Linked DNA regions of Homo sapiens: all the other regions are linked to region 3. Evidence: fine-mapped expression QTL. A gene starts in region 3. Each other region holds a variant in brackets. All regions are shown on one strand. Distances are from middle to middle. Region 1 has its middle 51 kb from the start of CXCL12. Region 2 overlaps RASSF4 (Ras association domain family member 4). Region 3 holds the start of RASSF4 (Ras association domain family member 4). Region 4 overlaps RASSF4 (Ras association domain family member 4).

Region 1 (5,287 bases), 520 kb after region 3:
CCCCACCCCTGTGGGCTCGGCACTGTGGCTCACCTCTGTTTCATGGATGGAAAAGACAAGATCAGAGAGGACATCAAGGGGCAGCCAGTGGGGCCCAGGTCTCTCATAGGCCAACCCCAGCTCTTCACCTGCACACCCCACCCTAGACAGACACCTTCCCTAAAGCCCACCCTCCCCCAGAGCCTACAGTCTCAGAGAGCCAGTGCTGGGCCCTGGGAACTTCTGGGCACCCCGATTATGTGTGTGTGTGTGTGTGTGTGTGTGTGTGTGTGTGTGTGTGTCACATGCATTGAGGGTTGAAGGAAGTTGACTAAGGAAAGAAAACAACTAGTCACAAATAAAAGAGGAATTTCCCAACTGAAGAAACATGTCCCTGAAGTGAGTGTGCTTTCAGTTCATCATGTCAATGCAGCACTTTTCTTCTGCTTCATTTGCAGAAAAGAAACTGCAACTTGGAAGGAGAAAAGGCAAAATGTATTTTTGTGCATTCAGCAGAAATAGCCAGGCCAAGCAGCCGGACACTTTTAGGTGACACAGATGAACCCTGCAGGGCGCTGACGTCAGGCCCCCTCAACCGAAGACTCATTCCAGGGAAGGTTGGGCCAGACCCACAAGCACCCTAAGGGCTGCACCAAAGTGAACCTGAAAATGCAAAGTACTAATTCCTGAATGTTGTAAGACATTGTTCTCTCAAAATATAAAAACAAGAAGTAAAACTTCTTGTCTGAAAATAATGCTGACAAAGCAACAAGTTCTCCCAATCTGAATGCCTCATCCTCTCACCAAAGTGACATGTGAGTGATTCTGTGGGGAAAAAAAAAAGGCATTGGAATATTGCAGAGCATGAAAGGCCACACAGCAGGGGAGCAGCTCCTAGAACATATTATATTTCAGGGGCATCTGCTTCCTGTGTTTTTGATTACATTAAAGTATTTCATTTTCTTCCCCAAGACATCCCAAATGCCTTGTGTGCCAAAACTCCTCAAGGGGCTATGCGTGTTTGGTAATGAGTTAAGTCCATGACAATCCCAGAAAGAATCATGGACTGGGGCAGAGCCCTGGGGCGCAGGGGTACCAGGCCAGGTTCTGGCCCCAGAGCTCACAGGACTTCACGGGGCATCAGAGCAAGTTCTCCAGGGAAGGCTGCCCTGTGGCCACTCCCATTCTTGGTGCCGGGACATGCTGGCCTGGTTTCCTGCTCATCACTTTACTTCAGCACTTACCAAAAGGTCTCATAAATGGTGGCTTACATCTAAAACTAGTGTGTAAGCCAGCAGTTAAAATTTTCTTTTCATATGAAGACAATGTAAGGATGCAGGAAAAACAGTTTATGGGTTCTCTCTATCTCTCGGCAGAATGTCATTTTTATCTTATATATATATTACCTGCAACCATGTATAAGCATTCTTTTATTAATTCCATGTTAACAGAGAGATTTTCCTTCTGGCTACAGTATTCCCAGCCTTGATGCAGAAGGCCAGCGGTGGGCCATGTCATGAAGCTGGGAGGAACCCCCAGGGCCCATCAGCTCCTCCAGTACCAGCCAGGCCCTGGGTTTAGGTGATAAATAAGTCACATGAGGTCCCTGCCCGGAAGTTTATATTTCCAGAAGGAGAAACAGACAATAAATAAGTGAATAAATTGACCATTTCAGGTCCTGATAAATAATATGAATGGAAGGAAGCTTGCTGTGTTCAGGGAGCAGGAGAGGACATGGCCAGGGACACCAGGTCCGGAGGTGTGGGAAGGCCTCTCTGAGGGAACGTACTTGAGCGATGTGAGGGAGACACCCTGAGAAGAGCCTGGAAGGCTGTCCAGGAAGGAGTGGAGTCAATGCAAAGGTCCTGGAGTGAGAAAAAACAGCTTCATGTTATAGGAATCTCACAGTCAGTGTAGCTGGAACAGGGCAAGTGAAGGCATGGCAGGAGGTGGTCAGGGCCTTACAGGCCACGGTGTTGGGATTGGATTTTCTTCTGGAAGGGACAGGAAACTACAGGTGGTTTGGAGTAGAAGCACATGGAGATCATAACCCCAAGCACTATGGGAAGTAGGGTAGGCAGCAGTAGGAGCTCCTGGGTGGGAAGGCCAAACAGGAAGATGGCAGTGCCCTCCGTGAGATGCGGACCCTGTCTAGGTAGAACAGGGCTGTGGGGATGGGGCAGTTCTGGGGTAGGAACCAACATTTTGGTATTAGACATGCCACTTCTGCAGATGTTCCTTTAGAGAGGAGCAGAGAAGTGGGATGGTGGTTGCAGGAGGGATGCGGAGTCAAGATGACCCTGAGAAGACCTGCACGGGGGCCATCCAGGAAGGAGTAGGGTCAGGAACAAGGTCCTGAGGCAGGAAACAAGCTTCATATTCCTATTTTTAAAGACCAAGCTTTCACTGCAAGCTGATGTGCTGTTGGAAAGATGCAGTGGCAAGGGAAAACCTGCTGATGCTGGTGATAGAAGTGATTGTTGCAGGAGCAGTCAGAGGTCTACACTCGAACCTTAAGGAGCAGGACTCTACTTTATGCCACTTTATTTCTCCAGCATGAACAGAGTGCTGAGGAAGCAAGAGCCAGCACATGAGACCCAGCCTAAGGGTCCCTGGAGAGCTTCCTGGGAGAGGTAAAATCATGCTGAGAAGGGCAGGCCCAGCAGCAGCTTGCCAGTGTCAGGAGGGAAAAGATGCTCCAGGCAAAGACAGCTCATGTTCAAAGGCCAATGCACATGAGAAAGAGCTGGGCATGGTTGGCCACAGGTGCACAAGGATGCTGGGAGCTGAGGTGGAGGGGAGGGGAGGACCAAGTGAGGCTTGCAGGCTGTACCAGCAGGTCGGATTTTATCACTAGACAGATCACCCTAGCAGCAGCAGGGATTACCTCTGACTTGAGAGGCAGGGGACAGGGGTAAGGCAAACACTGGTGGGAGGGATGGCCTT[G/T]GAGAGGCAGCGCCAGGTATCCACAGGTGAGGGTGGGCCAGGAGACAAGAGGGCACCAAGAGCAGATTAACTGCACTCAGAGGCAGCTTCAACCAGCTGGATAAGTAGGGAAGATACAGCAAAGGATGGGCCTGGGGTTTGGGTGACAGTGGTGGATGAGGCTACTCATTGAGAAAGGGCACTTCATGGGAAGGATGATGGGGCTGAGGGTGCCAAGGCAGCAGTCAGATCCCTGAGCACACTAGCCCGGAGGCCACAGATGCAGGGGAAGAACAAGTGGCTAGGACAGGGATGGAGCCTTCCATCCCAGGGCCTCTGCAGGGAATTGGCAGTCTGCTGCCTCTTCTCTGGTATATAAAGGCAGGTGAGATATGTGGATTCCCGTTTCTCCCTCAAGAACCATGAAAATCCTATGAATGTTATTTGAGAGACATTGCATTTTCTTCCTAGAAAGTGGGGACCCCAGCTATGCCTTGGAAAGATCTCTCTCACTGCTAAGGGAAGGTGCCCTGGAGGAGGGAGCCTGGGGACGAGGGGTACACAGGCAGGTGGTCATTAAAATAATGCAGGAAGGAAGCCATGAGGCTAAACCAGGCAGAGGGCAGGAGGGCAGCAAGGAGGGAAAGAGCTCTCGCTGTGGCAGAGGATGCATGATCAGGATTTGGTGAAAAGTGAGGCAAGGGGAAGAGGGAAGAGCCAGATTCTAACGTTTAGGTTCTGGCGGCCAAGGCATGATAGTGCCATTGAAATGTGAGTTCAATATCCCTGCAGCTACCGGAACCAGGGTGCAGAGCAAAGCAGAAGCCAAGTGAAGTTGATGAGCAAGCAGATCTGGACAGAAGCTGGTGTGTCCAGTCTAGTCCCAGCTTGTCAAGGACATGCATCACCACTGCTTCTCTCAGTCCACAGAGGTTCTCACCTCGGATCCATCTATGCTTTGGGGACACTGGACAGTGACCCGAGTGGAAAAAGAAACATCTCTTTTGACTCCTCGAGCTGATTCCCCACTTGGGGGTAGGAAGGTGAAATACCTGAGACTTTGCAACAAGCGAGGCTGAGGCCACAGGAGGCTGAGGCTGAAAGCCCCGGCCTTCAGGGCTACTTTAGAGGAGTGAAGAGCAAATGTGTCTGTTGGTCCCAAAGAGCAGAGGTCCCTGGGGGCCCTGCCAGTGATGTGGGCAGAGAACAGGTGGCGTGGAGCTCCTGTCTCTGCCTCTGTCTTAGTTGGCTCAAAGTCCCAAAGAACTGGAGACCCTGGTCAGGAAAACTGCATTATCAGGGTACCCACTTCCCCTTCTCCTGCACCTCCCCAGCCTAAGACTCTACAGAAGAAAGGACAGATGATCAGAACCCTGGAAAAATGGCAGATAGGAGGCAGGACTAACTTGCAGCTCCCACTCGGTTGGACAGAGCAGTGTATGGAGACTCACATCGTGAACTTTTGCTCCAAGAACTACCATAGCAACATACCCGGAAAGCGGAGAGAATCCACAGACCCTCTGAAGGAAGTGGATTGCTGCTGCAGGTGCCCAGAGACAGCCAAAAAACCCTGAAGACAAAGGACATAATCTCTTCAGAGCTCTAGGGCCCTGCCCACCACCTGATCCTCCCTATACTATGGCAGCTAATGCACTCTTGAAATTGTCACCTCCTGGCTGGAAGCCAACCAACACAAAAATGGTGCAATAAACAAAACTACAACCAAGGACCCTTGCAGAGTCCTCTTCACTCCCCTGCTACGTCCACTGAAGCAAGTGCTGGTATCCACAACTGAGAGACCTGGAGACAGTTCAGTTCACATTATAGGACTCAGTGCAGACCCTCCCCAATACCAGACCAGAGACTGGTAGCTCCATTAGGTGGCTAGATCCTAAGGAGAAACCAAAATCACTCCAGTTAAGCTCTCAGGAAGCCCTATCCCTAGGGTAAAGGGGAGAGCACCACATCCAAGGAGCACCCCATGGGACAAAAAAAAAATATGAACAGCAGCCCTTGAGCCCCAGATCTTCCTTCTGAAATAGCCTACCCAAATAAGAAAGAGTCAGAAGAACAATTCTGGTAATATGACAAAACAAGGTTCTTTAACATGCCCAAAAGATCACACTAGCTCACCAGCAACAGAGCCAAACCAAGGAGAAATCTCTGAATTGCCAGAAAAAGAATTCAGAAAGTCAATTATTAAGCTATTCAAGGAGGCACCAGAGAAATGTGAAGTCCAACTTTAATGAAATTTAAACAAAAACAAAAACAAACAAAACTTATACAAGCTACAAAGGGAAAAATCTTAAGTGAAATAGAAAGCATAAATAAAAAACAATCACAACTTCTACAAATGAAGGACACACTTAGAGAAATGCAAAAT
Region 2 (5,287 bases), 23 kb before region 3:
GAATGATGTAATTTGGGGAAAGAAAGCTTTTCCTGAGGTCAGTACAATGCATCCTTGGACAAAAGGCTGTGTGCTGGGAATCTGGGGTCGTCCAGGTTCTCTGGGGCACAGACACATGTGCCCTGGGCACACCCCTGCTTAATTATTCGGTGAGAGTGATGGCTGGATACACAGTGTTCCCAGGGATCAACCAATCGAGTTCGGGGGGAAGCCTCCTAGAAAGCGCCCTCATTGAAGACACGGTCAGCGTTACTGTCTGCCCAGGGCATCCCCAGCTTACTTGCCAGAATTCTGTGTGACTTGTGAGGATGCACTGACAGTGAGCATGTGCTGGAAAATGCTTAGGTCATAAACGGGGCTGTTATGTGGATGCAACCTGGTTTTTCCTCCTGAGGGCACAGGAATGCCAGCAGCCCCCACACAGGTCATGGTGCTTGCTGTGCCTGTGCTCAGGCCTGGCTCCCCATGCGCCCAGGGGAGAGGCCAGGCTGGGGCATCACCTTATGATTGTAGAAGTGGCCGTTGATAGAGAACCGGTGTCGCCGGATGCGCTGGGCCTCACCGGGGGCGCGGCACTTGGGCCTCCTCTGGCTCATGCAACTGGCGTCGCTCTTGGTCCGCATCAGCTGGGGGGCCTCCTCTGCCTCCTCCAGGGGCCCTGCATGAGAAATGGGTGAGAGAATGGCAGGGTGGGTGATGCTGACAGAGCAACTGCCTGCTGTCGGGAGATCTGGCACCCTAGAGCCCTGTGGTCACGTGCACTGGGGCAGATGGGGACGTGAGGGCCATTCCTGGACTGGAGGCTGGATATTCCCAGCTTGCAGATAGGAAGGTGAGACCCAGACAGGGTAACCTGGGTCACAATGTCACATGGCCATACCCCTCTTGGTCTCTGTCTTAGGGTGCCCATGGAGGTCTTTGGTGGCCCCAGCCCTGTCTTCTGAGCCCCTGCTCTGAAACAGGCCCTTCACTGAGGGCTAAAGGAAGGGGAATAAAAAGGATGAGTGAGCAGGTACAGAGGGTGAGGACGAGGTCGCAGAGGGAGGTGAGGGGCCAGGAGAGCGCAGTGCCTTCTGTGGATGCTCCTGTTTCCCATAGCACACACAGGGCGGGGGACTCAGGCCACCCCCACACTGTCACTGTCACCTCCCAAGCCTCTGCTCACTTTTCCATAAAAAGGAGCGAGAATGAGGGCAGAGCACCTCACAGGCAGGCACCTGGGTAGGGGTCCAGCAGGTGAAGCCCCTCGTTGGCTGGGGCACAAAGCTGTCCTTCGGAGATTGTGGTTGTGAGCCAAGCCCCTCTGCTCCTACCCCGGATGAGGCAGGGGTCTGGGCAGCTTGCGGGCTCCGCTTACCCGAGCTGTCTGTGGAACTCTCAGCCTTGTGCACTGGCTGAATGCTTGGCCCCTGGGCTGTGATGTTCCCGTTCTGGGGCGATGGCTCCTTTCTGAAAACAGACAACTGCAGGGCTGAGATGGCTGCCGGCAGAGAAAGGGAGCTCAGGCCAAGGAGAAGAGACCAGCAGCCCCTGGGGTAGGACACAGGCGGGAAGCAAGGCAGGCTGAGGTGAGGCCTGGATTTCAAACCAAGAGAGTCAGTCTGAAACAATAAAAGAAAAGTAGAGGCCTCCCCCCAGCATCTGCTGGACGGAGAGTGAGCCTGGCCCTGCAGACCTGAGGGCTTGTGCTGGGCTGCATCGCACAGACACACGGACACATGAACATAGTCAGGGCCTGCGCATTCCTAGACACCAGGCTTAGCCAGGCCAGCAGCTGTGTGCCAAACAGGCTCGCTGGGCTTCCCGAAGGCCTAGTGGGGTGTCAGGCAGGGGCCACCTAGAAGGGCCCAACCTCCAGGCCTCTTGGCAGGATGAGCCCCAGGCCAGGGTAGCTAGTGCTGGGCTGGAGAAGGAGTGGGTATGATGGGGCACAGCCCTGTAGCCCAGGGGACCTGGGGAAGAGAAGACAGATGGGATCCTGGAGAATACACGGGCACAGCCGCGACTGCTGTCTGTGAGTGCTTTACCTCGAAGAGGGGCACATGTGAGTCACACTTGCAGCCTTCCTAAGGAGTCTGACTTTATGCTCTAATTCTGTGTGCCTCAGAATTCGCTGAGTGACTGGGGACACCTAGGTATGTGCTGGGGCTGTCAGGGTGGTGGGTGCTGTCACAGCATGGGTTTCATATGAAATCTGAAGGGGGCAAAGCTCTGAATGTGTGCCCTCTACAGGAGTTACTACTGCAGAAGCAGGCAAGGCCCAGCTACTAACTGCGTCTTTTGGGAGTGGGCCGAGGAGGAGATAAATGTGCATTGAATGGTAAGGCAGGCAGGAGACCATTTCCTCCTGACAGAAACATTATTCTGATATTAAACAAATGTAATGTGAAATTCTGATAAATTTATTTTTAAAATTTTGACATTAAAATGAAAACAGAGTAGTAAGAGGCTAAATTCGTGTGAATTTTAAAGATAGAACAAGAGATGGCGAGACATGTTCGGCTTGCATAGGTGTTGGGAGCCCCCCTGGCTGTAGTCGTCCCTTCTTGCCAGCAAGGTGGCTTGCAGGAAGGTTTGAGAAACAGAAATAGAGGTCATGGGAGCCTGGAATGTTCTCCAGGAAGGAGGGAGAGGCCACCCTGGGCGAGGCTGTGGACTGAGGCAGTCACAGGGCATGGGGATGAGGCTGGGTCACCCTCCTGTGCCAGTGTCCCATAAGGGAACAGGGCTCCCACCCTGAGGCTCGGGATATCCCCAACCCGGGAGCTCAGGCTGAGCAGGTGTCACAGAAGCCACCGGGTACTCACAGAGGGCAGCTAGGCCGTC[T/C]GGGCATCCATGAGGTGGAGGGGAGGTGCACCTGCTCCCGGTCATCCTGCATCTGCAGCCGGATGGGCCGCCTCAGCCCCCAGGCAATGTTGAGGAGCCCCTCGATGATCAGAGTCCCTTCTTCCTGTGGGGGTCCACACATCAGCCCTTCCCCCAGAGCAGCTGCCTACCTTCCCTGTGCCCCCTAGGGATGGGATGCTCTGAACACTCAGGCCTTGCACATCCCTCCTCCTGAGTGGCCCCATCCCCTCAGGAAGGACCATCAGCCACTACGTGCCCTGGGGCGTGTGACCAGGCCCTGTGGGAGGGAGCCTGAGATGTGCTCAGCTCATGCCTGGCCAGGGGCACAGCGCAGAACACAGTGGCTGAGTCAGGTGTCCCACAGGAAGCCAGCTGCTGGCCGGCAGGCACGTCCACACCGCGGTGAAGAAGTGGTTCCAGGGACGCACAGCCTGTCTGCTCATGCCAAGCAGGGGACCTCTCTGCCCACACTGCACCTGGGAGGGGGTCCTGCGCCACCAGGTCCTATGGCCACCAGGCCCGGCAGGGTCCCACACCCACCAGAGGAGAAGTGGGCACTCTCTGTCCTAGCTGTGTCTCAGCCTCACCCTTCTCCCGGTGCCTTCCAACAGCAGCAGCGTCCACTTGCCAGGGCTGACAAAGGGTCTTGCTTTTCTCACCACTGCTTAGACATCACTAGCCCTATATCCCATACCAGAATTTCTACAACAGCCTTCATCCCATGTCCCCAACCTCCCTCGGTTTCCCTAGGTCTGCAGGTGACATGGCTTCTCTCCTGCTGCCAACCTGGGGCCCTAATCAACAGAGTCCTCTGCACGCACCTTGCTAGTAGTGCTGGTTGGCACCCCTTGGGCCCTTGATTCAGTGCCTCTGACCTATTCCAGGCCTCTGTCTCTGCGAGACCACCCCAGGCCTCTGTGCCAATCCCGGTCACTCTGTGTGTAAGCCTGGCCAAGCTGAGTCATTTGCCAGAATACTTGCCAGCAACCTCAGCTGCCCTCTACCCAGAGCCGCAGTCTCGAAACTACACACTCCTAATGTGCTCTGACACTAGTCTTCCCACAATTAACTTTGAATATCATTCTCTCATTGCCATCTCAACCAACATTTAATTTTATTATTTATGTTTTATTGTGATAAGGACATTTAACATAAGAACTACCCTCTAAACAAACTGTTCAGTGCACAATACTGTATTGTTCACTGTAGGCACAACGTTGTCCAGCCCATATCCAGGACTTACTCATCTTGCATAGCTGAAACATTATATCAGCTGCACAGCAACTCTCCACTTCCTCCTCCCCTGCCCCAGTCCCTGCAACCACCATTTTCACTCTCTGCCTCTATGAGCCTATTTTAGATTCCTTATATAAGGGAATCATGCAGTATTTCTGACCCATATTTTAGATTCACAAATCCCATTTCTCTCTCCTCGTTGGCACTAAAAGCCCTGTGAGAACAGGGACGCCATGGAAACTTCTTTGTATCCCTGGCAGCACTCAGGAAGACCCTGCACAATGTGGATTTCATGGTAACTTAGAAATGGGGTTTCTAGGTTCAAACATCCTGCCATCCACAGAGAAAATAGTGTATCCAAAGGTTATCAAATATACACACAGCTTCCAGATATGACCTTGCACTATCTGCTAAAAAGGAAAACAAACAAGCAGAAACCAGAGCTGTTTTTGATACTCACTGGTGCTCTACAAGCACAGATGTGTCACTGAGCTTCCTATGAAGGAGAGGCCAGCATGGATCTATGGAGTTCAAAGGTCTATGGGGGGTTCTGTTCTTGCCTCTTGGTCTCGGGTGCCTCTCAGTGGAGAGAGCTTGTGGGGATGGCTCACTCATGGAGACCCACTGCCCTCCAGCCCCACCCTGGACGCCAGGCAGAGGAAGATGGAGCAGACACAGCCCTGGCCACGAGGGGCTCGGGCTTGGACGCAGAAGGAGATGCAATGGAGCTTCTTGGAGGAGGTGCTTGTGCACTGCACCCTGGAAGACGAGTGAAGGGGGACAGGGAGGAAAGCTGAGCAGGTGGCCCTGACCTCAGGACCTGCCTGGACAAGGTCGGGGGCTTGGCTGTACTGGGGACAGGCTGGCTCTCCATGACTCAGGCCAGACATGCCTACACAGGTGATGTGTGTGCCCCCAGCATAGCCGCCCACTGTTCACCCTCCCCCAGCTTGGCCGCATCTGAATGGAGGGAAAGCCCCGTCAGCCAGCAGCGAATTCTCCGCCTCCCTCCCTCTTTTGGTCTCTTGACTAATCTGCTCATTGCTAATAAATTCAAAGAAGAGCCAGCGAACTAGACAAAGGGTCTACAAAAGATATAAGAGCTTGGGCAAGGTGAGAAGTGCCATGTGCCACTGAAATCCTGGTCACTGTCTCAGGCACTCCCTGCCCCGATGCCTTTGTGCACATGGAGTTCCCACCTAGA
Region 3 (5,287 bases):
CCAGAAAATGCATGTATGTGCATGTTGTTGCAATCTGCATCCACGTGCAAACACACACACAATTTGCATATCACTGCAGGGAGATGAGACAGCTCTTGTCCATGTACTCCCAGATCCCCAGATCTTAGGTTTAGAATCTCTGCTGAAACCTGTCACAGCAAGAAAGAGGAGGCAGAGGAACGTTGTAGAGCCTTGCATGTGAGTTTTGCTGTGGCATTAACTTGGCCTGTGATCCTAGCGTGTTGCGCCGTCTCTTGGGCATCAGTTTAGCCAGAGCTGTTGTGGCAGCTGATAGAGAGTCTTCAGGGCTCTTCCCAGCACTGCAGCTATGGGGCTCAATGACACCCCACCCCTGCTTCCCAAGGTCAGGCAGGGCAAAGGGAGGGGGTTCCGGGCCTCTTCCTCAACAGTATATCCTAGGGCAGAAGGTGGGACAGCCAGAAAAGGAGACCCCGGGAACTACAAGTTTCTCTTTTACAAAAATAAGAAAACTGTTGAAGCTTTAGGAAGTGCAGCCACTTCTTATTTGATTTTCTTTATTTTAAAACAATTTCCCCAAACATACTCTGTGAGAGAATAACCACCTAGCCTTTGCAAGGCTCTGGGTTTAAAGCTCTGCTCTGTGACTGCCTGGCTCTGTTACCTTAAGCAAGTCCAGTTCCCTCTCTGAACCTTGGGCTCCTCATCAATTAAATAACTATAATCCTCGATGACTTCTGTGAAGACGAATGAGGAGACCTGTAAGATGGGCCTTGTGTTGGGCTCACCCATAATGAAAAGAGGCTCCCATTACTATTCTTATTGACACTGGGAGTTGGGGGCTCTGGAGAGACTGTGGAGCCCCAGAGATGGGAATGTGAGGCCTGCCTGCAGGAGTGGCCATGAATGAGGAGAGAGTCTGAGCTGACACCTGAAACCAGGCCCCAGACCCCAGGGGCCCAGGGCAGAGGGCTTTCTGGCAGATCCCCTAGTTAGGTCTCCCCTTTGAGGCTTTGCACGTCCAGAATCTGAACTCTGACACACACCCAAGTTTCGTTCATGTTCTTTGTTATCTGTCATGGTCCACTTGGTCCTGACCCAGGGCGACCCTGGACCTTGATTCTGTTCTCGACCTCCAGGCTACCCACTGGAGCTTCATGGTGGAAATACAACCCAATCTCCTGAGTTTCAGACAGACACTTTAATCTGTAGCATCAACCTTTTTGTTGTCAAATCACCAGCACTACACACTGAGAGAATTATGGCTAGAACTAATGACAACAGCCTTCACATACACTGACAAAGTGCTGAAACAGCCCATGACAATTTCCGGCCAGCATTTTTTTAACCTAAGTTTAATGAGTTTCATCTCTCCTCTTCCCTCCCTTCCTCTTTCTCCTCTGACCCTCTCCCTTCCTGTCTTCTCCCCTAACCTGCTGTCCTGGCAGAAGTAGCTAAGGAACCACACAGAGGAACAGAAGGCAGGATGGTCTACATTTACCTGTTACTTCACCAATTCACTTCTAACTTAAAAAAAAATGGTTTCTGGCAACAAATCCTGATTGACACCTTAGTACTGTGGGCAGTTAAACTACAGCAAAGCCAGCGAGGGGCTCCTCTGTGAGTGCAAAGCATAGCTTTGGAGTCTAACCTGCTTGGGTTCAAATTCCAGAAGCCCAGCCCTTATTTGCTGTGCGACCTTATTTAATTCCTATGTGAAATGGGGCTCCTGAAGCTGTCCTTACTGTGTTTTAAGAAAGTGCTGGCCCTGGCCTGGGCACTGATTCTGGTGTGAGAGGAGGCCTCCCTCCCTCCGCCGTGCCAGGTTAATGAAAACACTGAGGCATGTTTTGGAAGTGGGAAGTGCAGGATGGGACCGGAGTCAGGAGCCCAGAAGAGCAGGGCAGCAGGCAGGCTGACCTTCGGAGACTAAGGGTGAAGAGCAAGAGACTCAGGGGCACAACAAGCCCTGGGTTCAAATCCTGGCTCCATCACCAACTCATCCGGTAAAGGTGGACAATTTTATAACTCTTTAAGCCTCAGTTTTCACATCTGAAAAGGGGATAACGAAAGTAGGACTCTCACTTGCTGTGAGGAGTAAGAGGCATATCGTGTTAAAGCACTTGGCCCAGAGCAAGGCGAGCCCTCTACAGACAGCGATTGTGAGACAGACCCCCCCTGCTGCTATTATCTTGGCGTTCGATTTCCATCAGTGAAATCAGAGTTGTGCCAGAGGCCTCTAGGCTCTCTCCCCAACTCTAGGATCAGTGCTTCTAGGAAACTGGTTAAGGACAAGGTGAACAAAAAAGGTGTAGCCAGTGGCCGGGCTCATCTGTCTTGCTCAGGTTGTAGCCCCTAAATTGCTTAACAGAGGTGCCAGGCGCAGTGCCCCCTCTCAGCAATGAGCCCGAGGCCCGCAATGCGCCAGGCTGGCGGGGGAGGGACCCTGCGCGCTGCGGCCGAAGGGCACAAGTGCCCAGGCTTCAGCGTCCCTGCCTGGTGGCAGTCCTGGGTCGGAGGGGATGCTCCATGGACGCCCAAGCACTCTCCTGCTCGTTCATCACTCACCGTCCAGTCATCGCGCAGTCCAGAAGCCACTGCATGTGTCGTGTCCTCGCTTGCACCGGAGCTGCGCCCGCAGCGCCTGCTGACCCCAGGCTTCAGCTGCTCGGGGCCAGGCCCGCCCCTCGCCCCGCCCCTCGCCCCTCGCCCCGCCCCGCTCCCCGCCTCTCGCCCGGCACGGCCAAAGGTGCCGCCCCGGTCTCTCCGTCCCGCCCCGAGCACGCCCCTCACTCCGCACCGGCCAATGGCACCGCCCCGTCCGCCCCGCTCTGGGAACGCCGGTAGGTTCCGGGTGCAGGGCGGTGGCCTAGGGGCGGCGGGGAAGATTTGGGGCCTGCGACCTGCCAGGTGTCCCCAGGCCATTGTTCAGCTCGCCGCGCGCTCCCGAGTTCCCGAGGGCGCCCCGGGACGCGAGGAGAAAGCAGCCCGACTCAGCCCCGAGAGGTTCGGTGTGCGGGCAGCGGCCAGGGACTTTGCGGGGTAGCGCGGACTCCTGGACTTCCAACAAGGGCCGCTGCGCAGGCGCTGCAATCACTGCAGGCACTTGTCTGCATGCCTGGTGGGGCTTGGAGTCTGGGGAGGCTTATCAGTAAAGCCCAGAGCATTTGCTATTTATTGCTCAAGGGGCACCTTTGTACAGTCTGGCCGTTTGCTTGGCATGGCCTCTTAGAACTCCTTATTGTTTAAGAAATCCGATCTGGTGAATAAGAAGTTAGTCTTTCTCTCCCAGTCACTGCCTCCTGGACGAATATTTGCCAGCACGGAGGCAGAGAGGACAGAAAACCACAAGCCATTTGGGGAACTGGGAACAGTTCAGTGTTTCTGGGGTGTGGGGGTGTCAAGGTGGGGGATGGGGTTGATGGAAAACATTTGCAATTTCTGCTTTACCTCACGATTCCCAGCTCTGACCTCTGGACCTGTTCTCTCCCACCCCTAACATAAATCATTTTAGTTTCATTCAGTGTGCGTTTCCTAATATTTTTAGGGTCTCATGGCCATTTTAGAATCTGATATGGATCTTCTAGAAAGTGCAGGTGGCCATATGCACCAAAATCAGCCTGGGATTTGAGTCTCATGGGTCCCTGAACTTCGACTTAGAGGGGCTGTGCTAATGCTTGTATGGCTGCTGTATGACTTATGTTGGAACCCCCACCTGCAAAAAGTGACAGGACTGAAGATACCCAGTCCAGGGGCCCTCCCGTTTCTGCGTTTGCTTGAATTTTTGGAGAATGGCCCATCCTTTGACAGCTCTGAGGCTCCCTGTGGTTGGTGACTTGTCATGACACATTTGCTCTTCCACAGCCCTCATCAAAGCTGAGACAAATAATCGGGTGCTTCCAAAGGTTTTTTAAAAGTGGGTAAAATTCAATATAACTGTCAACCTCTGAGCATGAGATCCTAAGAATTTAATCACTCCTGATAGGAGAAGTAAACATAGCACCAGGGTGACATAACAGTTTCCCTGGGCTCTCCAGAACTCGAGTGTGAATCATTCTCTCTGACCTAATTAATGCTGTTCACAGGGCCATGACTGGCTCTGAGTGAGGACTGGGTTTGGGACAGCAACCCCATGTGTCCTGTGCACCCATTGTGGGCTCAGACACTATGCTAGTGCTTTACATTGGGGATCCCATGCAATTCCCCCAGCACTCCTGGGCAGTTGGTGTTACTGCTTGCATTTTTTAAAATTTCCATTTTTATTTTAAATTTAGGGGATACACGTGCGGGTTTGTTACAATTGTACATTGTGTGGTACTGAGGTTTGGGATTGATCCTGTCACCCAGATGGTGAGCATAGTACCCAATAGGAAGTTTTTCACCCCTCGCCCCGCTGTCTCCCTCCCACTTTTGAAGTCCCCAGTGTCTATTGTTTTTATCTTTATGTCTAGGTGAACCCGATATTTAGCTCTTTTGCTTGTAAGCGAGAACATGTGGTGTTTGCTTTTCTATTTCTGCATTAGTTCGCTTAGGATAATGGCATCCAGCCACATCCATCCTGCTGCAAAGGACACGATTTTATTCTCTTTTATGGCTGTGAGTGCTTGCATTTTACATCAGACACAGGTGTCCATTGTCAGCGTCCTCCCCTCAGAAGGGGAGGGTCCATTGTCAGACCCCTCAGAAGGAGGGGTCACCTTTTCTTTCAGGGTTCAGTAGAACTGGGTGTGGTCTCCAGCTCACTTATGGTGGAGGCTACAGATACTGTTGGTTGCCAGCCAATGTCCATTTCCTTCTTTGGAAAAAAGAAAGATAGGAAAGAAGGAAAAGGACAAAAAGGAAGGAAGGAAGGAAGAAAGGGAAAGAGGGAGGGAGGAAGGAAGGAAGGACGGAAGGAAGGAAGGAAAGAAGGAAAGGAGGGAAGGAAGGAAGGAAAGGAGGGAAGGAAGGAGGGAGGGAGGAAAGAGGGAATGGGGAAGAGAGGAAAGAGAGAGGGAGGGAGGGAAGGAAAGGAGAGAGAAATACCCACTTGTCTGTAGCAGCAACATGCCAGCCCCTAGTTATGGCTCATGCCCACTTGTATTTTTCATACTCTACTTACAACCCAATAGTGGGTCATGAAATTAATTTAGTTGATGATGTGACTAGTACTTCAAAAATGCAAGGGAAAATACCAGTGTACAGCACAAATAGTAAATATAAGTTGTGTTTTGTGGAACTTTTTGTTTGCATTGTTTATGTTTCAGTTATGTGTGCTTCTTACTGTGGGTTACAGTTAAAAAAAACAAAACAGCTGTCTAAGTCTTGA
Region 4 (5,287 bases), 29 kb before region 3:
GGACGGGAGCCTATTACTATCTCAAAGGCAACTGTTATCCCTGGGAGGAAATATTAAACTGAATATTAGGAAGAGCATTCAGTACAGCAGCATTGTCACATTGGGTGCCCTCTGGGCTAGGGGGTAGGGAGGTGGGAGCACCATTGTTTCTAACAATGGAATGCAATTGCAGCAGCCTGAGGGATACGGGGTCACTAGGCCTCCTACTTGAGGTTCAAACCCTGTAAGCATCTTCTATGCAGAGGAGTTTGGAAATGCACTCACTGTCTGGTCAGAACTCAGGCTGTTGGTAAGACTTAAATATCTCCCTGTTTTCCACAGGTGCGAGGTAGGGCCTAGTTAAAAAGCCTTTGCATAGGTCTCTCACATAATGACAACAAAATACATTCCAATGAAGGAAAAGACTTTACTTCCCTAGAGGAAAAGGACAGGCCATGGTTTTATAGGACCCAAATTCTTCTTTCCCCTAAGCTGCTGGTGCTGGCGGTCACTGATGGGAGAGGGAGGGCTGGCGCCTCCCTGTGCTAGGCTGGGAGCCCTTTGGGAGAGTGTGGAGCTCCTGGAGACATCAACTGACAGGGCTCTGGCCAGGAGTCCTTGGGAGGCCCCGTCACCCAAGAACCCCTCACCCTAGAGCAGGCCTCCCCAGCCTTGGCCCCCACTCACTTCATGGGGGACTTCCACGCCCAAGTCAGCTTCCATCAGGAAGATCCTGGCGATCTTCTCACATGGCCCATGCAGGATTCTGGAAATCAGCGGGTACTCGCAGTCTTTTAATTTTGTCCGCTCTGAAAAAGAAGGTGGTTTACAAAAATCACGGGAGATTAGGATCACCTCTGTCTGTTCCAGATTAGGAACTGATAGAAAATGTGCGTCTAGGGGCGCAGGGAACCCTAAGAACACAGACCTCGCTAACAGCGCTGCCCTGAGAGATTCCTGCTCATGCAGAAGGGAGGCAGAACAGGGCCCCCAGATCTGCCACTTTGGCATAAGGATTAAGTGGAGCGGCTGGCAATTGAGAAGAAGAAGATACAAGTGAGGCTCTTTGCCCTCCCCTATTTGCCAAAAAGCAGGACATAAATTTGTCAAGGTGTGCCCCCGTCCCTCTCTAGGCAATGATGGAGTTAATCACCAGAGACAACCCGAGCCCCTCCTCAGCCTGGAGAGGGCACCAGAGGAACCTGCACAGCACGTCCCGCTGAAGCCCTTCCCTTCCCGCAGCTCCCCGTGCGGTGACCTTCCCACCCTTCGCCTCCCCAGAAACTCAGGCCCTTCTCCTCTGTCTTGTCACTTCTCTAAAAACTTACTGCTCTTTTGTGAATATGCTATTTAAGCCCAAATTCTGACCATTCATCCCTGGATATTCCAAAGGGCATGCATGATGCAAGTGTTAACAAACTTCTGTTTGTTCTTCTCCTTAATCTGTCTTTTGTTAATCTAAATACAGGGCCCCAGCCAGTGAACCTAAATGGGTAGAAAGAGAAGATAATTTTCCTCCCCTACAGTGTCATTCAGCAAAGGTGCAGCTTGAAGAGAAACAAGATCTGAGGGGTGGGAGAAAGGAAAGCTGAGACGGGAGGGCCAGGGCCTGATGCACTGCGACACGCACCCCACCCTTCCTGACTCGGCGCCAAGGAGCTAGGTACCCACCCATCCATTTCTCTGGAAGAGGCGGAGAGGGAGGCTTCCTATAGCTTGGTGGGATTCTCCTTCAGAATCCTGAAAGAATTAAACTTAATGTACTGAGCGACCTAGAAAATCCAAGGACATTTTAATGTGCTTTAAATTCGAAGCCAAAAGTATGTTTTCTTTTCCTCAAGGCTTCCATAGTGTGCCTGGGTTTGGGTGGGGGAGAAATGTTCATGCTGGGAGGCACAGTGTGCCCTAGCCCACTAGGCAAGCCAGCACGGAGCCCATCTGGAAGGGAGTACAGTCAGTGGTTGGTGGGGAGGGGGCTTGCTGAACAGGTAGAGACCTTTTGCTTTTACGATCCAGAAGTGGGGCAGGTACTTACCCCCAGACTCGTGAACGATGTAGAGTGCGAACTCACTGGGGCCATCTTCCACCTGCACAGGCAGTCACAGGAAGTCAGATCACGGTGCTTGGAGATGGGAGAGAACTGAGAGGGTCCCCTGACAGTAACTACACCCCCAGTAACACACACGCAAGTTGCAAGGAACCTGTCCTCTCCCAACCTCCTCTTGCTTGAAATCCGAGAAACCAAAGCTCAGCAGAGGGACCCTTGCTAGACCTTCTGCCCAGGCAGCTTCTGCCACGGGCAGCTTTCCCCAGAACCCCACCCCCAACAGAATAGCAGACCACTGGCATCCTGGGGCAAGGCTGCTCCTGACCAGGCTTACCCTAAATTTGTTCAGCAGCAGGGTGAGCACCTGCAGGGTTGTCATGGTGCTGTTGACCCTCACATTGGTCACGGATCCATAGGCTGGAGTAAACACGGAGGTCTGTACCAGGAAGGGAGAGAAGTTCAGGTCAGGCCCAGAGGGGACAAGGGACTGACATCACAACGGTGAACAGACCAAGGCAGCAGGTGACGCTGAGATCTGGGAACACCTGCACCTGTCCATTCACGCTGATGCACACATAAGCTGTTCCCAGACCTGGGAGACACTCCGGGAAGCTGTAGTAGTGCACTCCTTCCAGAGGCCTAAGGAAGATGTCTACACACCCAGAAGGGCCAGCTCTCTGGACCCGAGGAACCAGGGCCATGGAAGTCATTCACAAGGGTGGGGGAATCAGTCTCTCCATCACTCTTTCTATTGATTAAGTCACCAGTTGTCTGTTGATTCTAAGGCTGAAAGTTACCCAATCTGTCTCCTCCTCTTCATTCTCCCAGCAGTGCCTAGTAGAGGCACTG[A/G]TCACACCATATCAGCTTCCCAGCTTGTTCCCTTCTGGTCTCAGTCCCTCTAATCCGTAGTCTGCACCGCTGCCTACAGGAACGGACTTCTAAAACCCTTGCACCTCCAAGTGACGTCTAGCCCAGCTGCATCCATACAGTCTCGGCTCCCTTCCCTACCCTGCTCCATACCATCTGAATCAGAGTCTGCGTCTGTAGAACACAAGGCGAAGCGATCTGTGCAGTTCAATGTGAGAAGCACTGTTTGAAAGCGCGGGTCTAAAAGTATCTGAAGGCTTCCTGGGGACTGTGCAATAACATCTGTAGTTCTTCTCATTGTCTCGCACGTATGACACTATGGTTGCCTAACAAGCACCATGTGCTCCAGTCACAGAGCTTCTTCACAATTTGGCTGGGGGGTGGGGGGACACATTATATTTTTGCAGGTATCTTGCCTTTGCCTAAGAGACACCATATATGAAATCAACCAGGACTCTGCCTGACACATAATAGGTCCGTCCTCAATAAACCCTAGCTGTGTATTGAACCCGCTAAGATTTTACATACAATCATTGATTTAATATTCATAACAACCCTTTGAGGCAGCTATAACTAGTCCCCTTTTCTTAGAAAGGAATCAGAGGCTTTAGGAGGTTAACCAGCTTGTTCAGAGTTACCCACCTAGAAAAGACAGAGCCCTGACTCAAAGGATTCCATGATTCCTGAAAACCTACATGTTACCCCCCTGGTGCTGGTGCCTCCCAGCGAATGTGACTCCTCTGCAGGTGAACCTCTCCTTGCTTTTCAAACTCAAGTTTAGATTCGCATATTCCTCCTCTGAGATCCTAGCTCTGTTTTCCCAAGGAGGTAGCTAAGGCTCAGAGAGCTCAAGGACCTATTCAGTATCCCCGCTCTGATAAGTCCAGGCACACCTGGGAGCCATTGTGAGTTCAGGTCCAGACCATCACAATGAAGCGAATATCTCAATAAAGTGAGTCACACAAATGTTTTGGTTTCCCAGGGCATATACAAGATATGTTTATACTATACTGTAGTTTCTTAAGGGTGAGACAGTACTACATCTAAAAAATATGCATGCCTTAATTAAAACTACTTTATTGCTAAAAAATCTGACACAGAGACACAAAGTGAGCACATAGTGTTGGAAAACGGCACCGATAGACTTGTTCAACACAAGGTTGCCACACACCTTCAATTTGCAGAAACCGCAGGTGCAGCAAAAAAAAAAAAAAAAGTGCACATTTTTGCAAATGGAAGGTTGCTGAACAGCAACCTTCCATTTGCAAAAATCTGCAAGGTACAGTAACAAGAAGCACAATAAAATGAAGCACGCTGTGCCAGAGTCAGACTCAACCTCGACCTGCTTCCCCCAGCTCGATTCTAGTTGAGGTGCAGAATGACTGAGTTATACAGAAAGCCAGGATTAGGATTAGGCTTTCTTGTCCAAAGAAATATGGAAGAGAGGGCCAGGTGCAGTGGCTTACGCCTGTAATCCCAGCACTTTGGTAGGCAAAGGCGGGCGGATCACGAGGTCAGGAGTTCAAGACCAGTCTGGCCAATATGGTGAAACCCTGTCTCTACAAAAAATACAAAAATTAGCCAGGCATCGTGGTGCGCACCTGTAGTCCCAGCTACTCAGGAAGCAGAAGAATCGCTTGAACCTAGGAGGTGGAGGTTGCAGTGAGCCCAGATCGTGCCACTGCACTCCAGCCTGGCTACAGAGTGAGACTCCATCTCAAATAAAAAAAGAAACATGAAACAGAGGAGTTAGGCTATTTCAAAGGGACAAAAAGTCTTGTTAACAAGACACTGTGTTTCTTCTGCACGAAGCCTTTTCTCAAGATGATACCAACCAACTCCAAGTAGGAACAAAGGCCCCCTGGCTACTTTCTTATCTCTAACCACAAATGGTTTCTCTCTAACAGAACGCATTTGAATCCAATAGGTCAGGCAGTAGAAACAGCTACAAAGTTTCACCCTGTCTGGAAATAAAACCAACATTTCTGGGAATCAGAACAGTTTTGGAAAATGACTGAGTGAAGTAATGGTGCACAGTTCTAAGAAACAAAACCTGGAACTATCTCAGAAATTCAATGCTAGGAATTATTTATTTTTTCAATTGTTGCCTCTGACTCAAGGAATCTGTCCCCTCATTTCTAAGGACATTAGTTCTGTATGGATGTTGAGCGTGGTAAGAAAGGGCTTTTTGCATAGTGCTTTTCTTTGGGACTTCCCTTACCCAGGAGGTGGGGGAGCTACTGTCCCAAATGCTTAAGACACTATTCTGTGTCCTTGAAAGCAGTACTTTTTTCTGGAAGAATGGATTCACATTGCAAGGGCAAATCTGTCACTAGGAGGAAAAGCTGCCCTCACTGGGTGACAGGCTGAGACCCCATGTTGTCTGGCTGAGTA

Evidence for each region.
Region 1: its variant is fine-mapped to the expression of RASSF4 in non-classical monocytes (Schmiedel 2018, PIP 0.94).
Region 2: its variant is fine-mapped to the expression of RASSF4 in skeletal muscle (GTEx, PIP above 0.99).
Region 4: its variant is fine-mapped to the expression of RASSF4 in whole blood (INTERVAL, PIP above 0.99).

Annotation. Positions count from the first base shown.
Region 1 is chr10:44,433,863-44,439,149 of GRCh38, reverse strand. No RefSeq gene overlaps it. Among named protein-coding and RNA genes, the nearest start is that of CXCL12, 51 kb to the right of the region's middle. The variant G/T (reference allele first, on the strand shown) is at 2,926.
Region 2 is chr10:44,980,184-44,985,470 of GRCh38, reverse strand. RASSF4 (Ras association domain family member 4) reads right to left here. Exons shown (of 11, transcript NM_032023.4): 4 at 2,808-2,950; 5 at 1,358-1,449; 6 at 501-658. Among named protein-coding and RNA genes, the nearest start is that of DEPP1, 4.0 kb to the right of the region's middle. RefSeq lists enhancers at 1,069-1,569, 4,843-4,912, 4,361-5,062, 5,063-5,287. The variant T/C (reference allele first, on the strand shown) is at 2,827.
Region 3 is chr10:44,957,127-44,962,413 of GRCh38, reverse strand. It overlaps RASSF4 (Ras association domain family member 4), which reads right to left and starts at 2,612. Exons shown (of 11, transcript NM_032023.4): 1 at 2,548-2,612. TMEM72-AS1 (TMEM72 antisense RNA 1) reads left to right here and starts at 2,725. Exons shown (of 8, transcript NR_033842.1): 1 at 2,725-2,822. RefSeq lists a silencer at 2,642-2,861 and an enhancer at 2,639-2,933.
Region 4 is chr10:44,986,449-44,991,735 of GRCh38, reverse strand. It overlaps RASSF4 (Ras association domain family member 4), which reads right to left. Exons shown (of 11, transcript NM_032023.4): 7 at 2,361-2,462; 8 at 2,015-2,066; 9 at 667-788. Among named protein-coding and RNA genes, the nearest start is that of DEPP1, 10 kb to the right of the region's middle. RefSeq lists enhancers at 1-13, 43-734. The variant A/G (reference allele first, on the strand shown) is at 2,876.